Regions from separate parts of the Homo sapiens genome. Here region 2 is linked to region 1. Evidence: fine-mapped expression QTL. A gene starts in region 1. The other region holds a variant in brackets. All regions are shown on one strand. Distances are from middle to middle.

What was found.
Region 2: its variant is fine-mapped to the expression of ARHGAP6 in spleen (GTEx, PIP 0.98).

What each region holds. Positions count from the first base shown.
Region 1 is chrX:11,664,257-11,667,163 of GRCh38, reverse strand. ARHGAP6 (Rho GTPase activating protein 6) reads left to right here and starts at 1,244. Exons shown (of 13, transcript NM_013427.3): 1 at 1,244-2,907. The coding sequence starts at 2,336.
Region 2 is chrX:11,264,151-11,267,057 of GRCh38, reverse strand. The region is part of intron 1 of ARHGAP6 (Rho GTPase activating protein 6); the gene reads left to right. Among named protein-coding and RNA genes, the nearest start is that of AMELX, 28 kb to the left of the region's middle. The variant C/T (reference allele first, on the strand shown) is at 1,353.

The DNA of each region.
Region 1 (2,907 bases):
AGCCGCTGAAAATACTTAAGAAGCTCAGGGTGAGAAGAGATGGACAGCGATGGGGGATGGGAAACTAGAATCGAACTCTGTCTTCAGACAGCAGATAGCTCATTAAAGCTACCGGAAAAAAAATCTCTAAGGGTGCAGTCTGTTCGGCTGCGTTTACAAAAAACGAGTACAGCCAAGACCTGGGAGCCCGACGCCCTTTGTGGAGACAACGAATTCTCCTAATTAGATTTCATGACGTACCTCCTCCAAAATAGCTGAACACCTAGGAACACCAAACACGCTTTTCAAAGAGTCTAAGTAAATTAACTTTTCCCCTGAATATGTCATAGGGAATAAAGGAAGTCTTCCAGAATCAAACTTGGACAATTCTGGTAGATATGCAAGAGGAATGTTCGTGTCCAACATCTGTATTTATAATTTCATTGTATTTTTTCTCCAAAATAAAAGAAATGGTAGAGTCACCTTTACATTTATATAAAATTATCTTCATCCCTAAGTGATAAAAGAGGACACAAACACAAAGTAGACATTTCCAACATTCTGTCTGCTCCCTGCTGAGATGGTTGTAAGTTGCATTGCAAAGCTTAACTGTTACATCAAAAAGCCCTCCAAGAGGGCGAGGCTTTGCGCTTTATAGATTCCAGGGGTCCGACAGCGGGAGAAGCTGCTTTCAGACTCATCTCCTTGCCGGGAAGATTGATTTCCCCAGCGTTCTCCAGCTTCCCAGGACTGTGGCCACCGCGCTGAGACCCGAGGCGTCCCAGAGCGGGACGCGGAGACAGATCGCTTTGTGAGCGCCAATCTCTGCAGCCTCTGGGCTGAAGCTGCGCCCGGCGCCTGCCCCCTACCCGGCCTCACTCACCCCTCCTCCTAGAGCACGTTTCCGCACGTGCTCAGGACCCCTTCCACGGCAAAGGCTCCTCCCCCTCCACTTTCTTAGTAGGTCTCCATCTCCAGCTCATTCATCGGCAGCCACTGCTTTTAGACAGTTTCCTATCTATCCTTCCTTTTTAAAAACAAAAACAGCCGGGACAGGGCGGGGTGGGGGGGCGCGGGGAGAAAAGGCAGGAGATTTAACTCCAACTTCAGAGCAATCGTCCCCGGCTGCCCATCTGACACCAGTGGGTGGGGTGCAATCTGACACTTCCCTTCCTTTCCAGAAACGTGAGTGGAGCTGGCGCGACCCTTGATCTGGGGGTGGGGAGACGGGGGAGAAGGTCCGCACTTCCGTCCTCACGACTTTCTCCCCAGGAGACCCGGTATCAGTGGCGAGCTGCCTTCTCTCCTCGCCGCTTGCAGGTTTGGCGCCTGGAAAACTCTTCACGTTCTGCTTTCTCCTGCTCCTGGCTCCGCCCCAGCTCCAGCCCCGGCATTCCTCCAGCTCTACACGTCCTGGCCGCCCCCTTCCCGCTGCCTCTAGAGCGAGCGTACGGGGTCATCTCCGCGTCTGCCCTGGGCCCAAGGCTGGGCTGCGAATAGCGTGTTCCTCTCCGGCGGAACACACACACCCGGCCTTGGGGCTGTCTCCTGAGCTCCCTCCTCCACGGAGAGCGCTGAGCGCCGCCGGGAATTCCATCCCACCGTGGGCACGCAGTCTTTGGAGGTCCCGGGCGCAGCACGCTCGGTGTCCCCACACTGCAGCAAGACAGAGACCCCGCGGGAACCTTGAGCTTGGAACAACCCTTGAGCCTCTGCAGTCGGAAGAGTGGGCGCAGCAGCCCAGCGGAGGCCAGGCGCGCAACCTCGGGCGCCGGGGCAAGGAGAGAGTGCAGGGAGGCGCAGCTCAGGCGCCCGGCTCAGGAGCGGGAGGAAGTTCTCGCGGCGCCGGGAGCGCGGTGGACGCGCCCTGGGCGCACGCCCAGGCAGCCTTCTCCCTGGCCCTCGGGACTGTCCTCGGGCCGCAAGGAGGAGCTTGCTGGAGTCTTAGAGGCCATCCAGAGCCAGCGAGCAGGAGCGCTGCGTCTCCCGCCTCAGCTAGGAAGGGGGAGTGGCGCTGGCAGGCTGGAGCTGGGAACCCAGCGAGCGCCTGACCTTCCTCCTCCTCTTCCTGACCCTCTTCGCGTCTTGGGCTCCGGAGGAAGGTTCTAGCGGCTGCAGGAGGTCCCCAGACCCATTTTCCTAGAAGGCTGGTGATGGATCTGCTGCTCCTGCCGCCGCCGGGGCACTTGGAGCGCACCGGCGGCGCGTGAGCTGGGCTTTGCTCTCCACTGCCCTGGGCAAACCCCGGGCCAGCCCCGCCTGGCACCTTTGCCTGAGTCCCTTTCGGTTCCCGACCCAAAGCCACCAGCGTCCAGGGAGGGAGGAGGAGGTGGTCCTCAGGTGCAGCCCCGCCGAGATGTCCGCGCAGAGCCTGCTCCACAGCGTCTTCTCCTGTTCCTCGCCCGCTTCAAGTAGCGCGGCCTCGGCCAAGGGCTTCTCCAAGAGGAAGCTGCGCCAGACCCGCAGCCTGGACCCGGCCCTGATCGGCGGCTGCGGGAGCGACGAGGCGGGCGCGGAGGGCAGTGCGCGGGGAGCCACGGCGGGCCGCCTCTACTCCCCATCACTCCCAGCCGAGAGTCTCGGCCCTCGCTTGGCGTCCTCTTCCCGGGGTCCGCCCCCCAGGGCCACCAGGCTACCGCCTCCTGGACCTCTTTGCTCGTCCTTCTCCACACCCAGCACCCCGCAGGAGAAGTCACCATCCGGCAGCTTTCACTTTGACTATGAGGTTCCCCTGGGTCGCGGCGGCCTCAAGAAGAGCATGGCCTGGGACCTGCCTTCTGTCCTGGCCGGGCCAGCCAGTAGCCGAAGCGCTTCCAGCATCCTCTGTTCATCCGGGGGAGGCCCCAATGGCATCTTCGCTTCTCCTAGGAGGTGGCTCCAGCAGAGGAAGTTCCAGTCCCCACCCGACAGTCGCGGGCACCCCTACGT
Region 2 (2,907 bases), 400 kb after region 1:
TTTAGGATAGTGGTGGTGGAGGTATGTGCAGTAACAGGTAGATTTTACTCTGAATCTCTGTTTAAGTTTAATCATTCTAGTAAAGAAAACCACCTGGAATATTTTACTGCTTTAAAATTCCTTCCTTAGCAGCAGCAGCAGCAGAGGCTATGTGTGGCTTACATGATTAGTTTCACAGAATCCTAGTAAAAGCATACCGAGTCCTTAATTTTGAATCAGTAAGATCTTCCATGAAATCATTTCCCGGTTTGTAAATTATAATCACAGTGATTCTTTTGTTGGAATTCACTTGAGACCCATGAGAGAACTATAACTTCCTATTGACTGGGAAACAAAGATGTCTTTTCGAGTTGTATTTGGTTCAGTGCCATGTGGAATGCATGGAGATCAAGGTAATTCGCGATTGGAATTAATCTTCCCTTTTCTCTCTGCTCTTCATGGATGCCACCCCCAACCCCCACCCCAACCTGAACCCTCTTAGATATGGCCATGTGGGTATATTCACTCTGACCTCCACACCCTCTGTTCAGGAAATGAACAACTTCTCAAGGACTGCTGTCCCACAAAGAGGATAAAATACAGAGCATGTGTTATGCTTCAGTGTGAAAGAGAATGAAAACTTTTGCTTTTTAGTGTGTGTGGCTAGTGTTAGAAAAATGGAGTCAGTAGTTTTAAAATATAATTTAAGAACTGAGAATTTGTCCTAAACAAAGAAGGCATCCTATGTGCTTTATCTTGCTCTCAGGGGTTTCACCAGTGGCTTCCAACATTCTTTGGTTGATTCCTAATAAGGACAGTTTGCACAGTTACAATCCAATTACCGTTTGTAGATCCCTGTGGAAAAGAGGATTTTTTTTAGAGGAATCCTTTTCTAACTCGAGTATATTTCTTCAAAATACTCTCATTCTTTTTGTCCCTTCCCTCCCCTCTTTCCTCCTCCCCAACTCTCTCTCTCTCTCACCCTCTCTCTCTCTCTCTCTCTCTCACACACACACACACACACACACACACACACACACACACAGGCACACACGCATACAAACACACGCACTCACTCATTTGTGCACTTACTCAGGGACACAGCCTGCCTCTGTTCTGAAAGGACAGGAACTTCTCAATGATCCGATGAAAAGATTGCATATTTTTGGTCCCAAGATTCACAGTAGCGGAGGTCTCTGGCAACAAAAGGTATCGTGGGAGTCACAGCTATGCCAGCTGGGCCATTTCTCAGACATTCAATATGATCTGCCATTTCAGGATGCATTTTTTACCAAAAAAATAATTTTTTTAAAACAGACTCAACTTCCTACTGCAAGCTTAGTTCAGTTAGATTAGAGAGGACAGCAAAGACG[C/T]GGCTGATTATAATTTATGGGTAAGCAATATAAATATCTATACTTACACTACTTTTTCAGAAAATAATTGTGATAAAGTTTTGTGATTCTTTCACATCCATCTTGTGATTTAGGAAGAAAACTGGAATGATCAGTGTCTGAGATGTGTGACAGCTAAAAACTGTCTGTGTCAATATGGATTTATGAGAACCTTATTTTTAGATTAATGATGTGGCAGCTTGAAATGAGCAAACTCAAGCAGGAAAGGATTGTGTCATGATTAACAGAACAGCATAATTGAGCTAATTTCTGTAAAAGATTCGGGCACAGGCTGTTTTGAAGTCTGAAAGGGTAAAGTGGTTTATCTTTCCCTCTTAACTTCTTGAATATGGGTGCAACATTTTAGTTGCTGTGGCTGTGATAAATATGGGTTTAGGGGAACAGTTTGGATATTAAATAAGGCTAATAATACATCGGATGTGCTTGTGCTGTCTTTTACAAAAGAGGAAACTTTAAGCCTCTGAATTTTTAAACACTGTCTGGCTTTCATTATTATAAGGGTATGTCTCATAATGAAAGGGCTTGGTGGTGGAAAGAGGGGAACATGACCCTGATGTCCCAGATCCCATTATGCCACTGCAGCTGCTTTGCTCATTTGTAAAGTTAGAGGTTTGGATTGGTTTATCATGAAATGTTATGAAATACATATAGTGGTTATGAGTCTAAATTCTAGAACCTAAAGCCTGGCTTCAAATCCTAACTCTGCCACTTAATTGGTGTGTGCTCTTGGCAAGTTACTTAAGTTCTGTGCCTCAGTTTCTTCATCTGAAATATGGGAATAATGATGGTAACATAGTCCTTAGGTTGTTGTAAGAATTAAATGAGATAATATAAATAAAAGGCTTAGAACAGTAACTAGCAGAGAGCGGACCATCTATAAATGTGAGCAGTATCTTCAAGGTCTAATCTATCTCCGGAGGTCGTTCTAATTTCAGTGAACTAAATTTAATTAGAGAAAGACAAGTAGAACCATCAGCTGCTGGCCCTGTCATTAAGAAATTTCTAATTCATGCCAGTGTTTCCAGTTTTTGCAACCCTGAGATTTGTGCAGGCCATCTTACCTTCTTCCTCCCATCCAAGACTCGAGAGAAGCTTAGAACTGAGAATTAAATTGATGGCCATTAGAAAAGTCCACAATTCAACTGGGACTACACAGAAATGAAATTGACCTTTTGCTCTGACGTTTTTGCCCTTGAGGACTTCCAGTATGTCCCCTCTATGCTAACCACTGGAAAGGTTCTTTCCACTGGAAACAAGATGTAAGTGACATTTGATTTTTTAGATGGTGTTAGCCCAGCCCTGGGTTTGACAATGTTCATTTCTACTTCTTTAGTTTATCGGTAACCCAGGTGAACAGGCCATTTGCAGATAACCACTTCTATTTCATGCTAGCATTTGCATATTTTCTAATATGCTAAATTATGTTGTTTGATTTTTTTTTTTACAGGCTCTCTGGGATGTTTCTCAGAGACAAAATCTTAGGAGAGGAGGAAAATGGTGATGGCAAAAGGCAGAT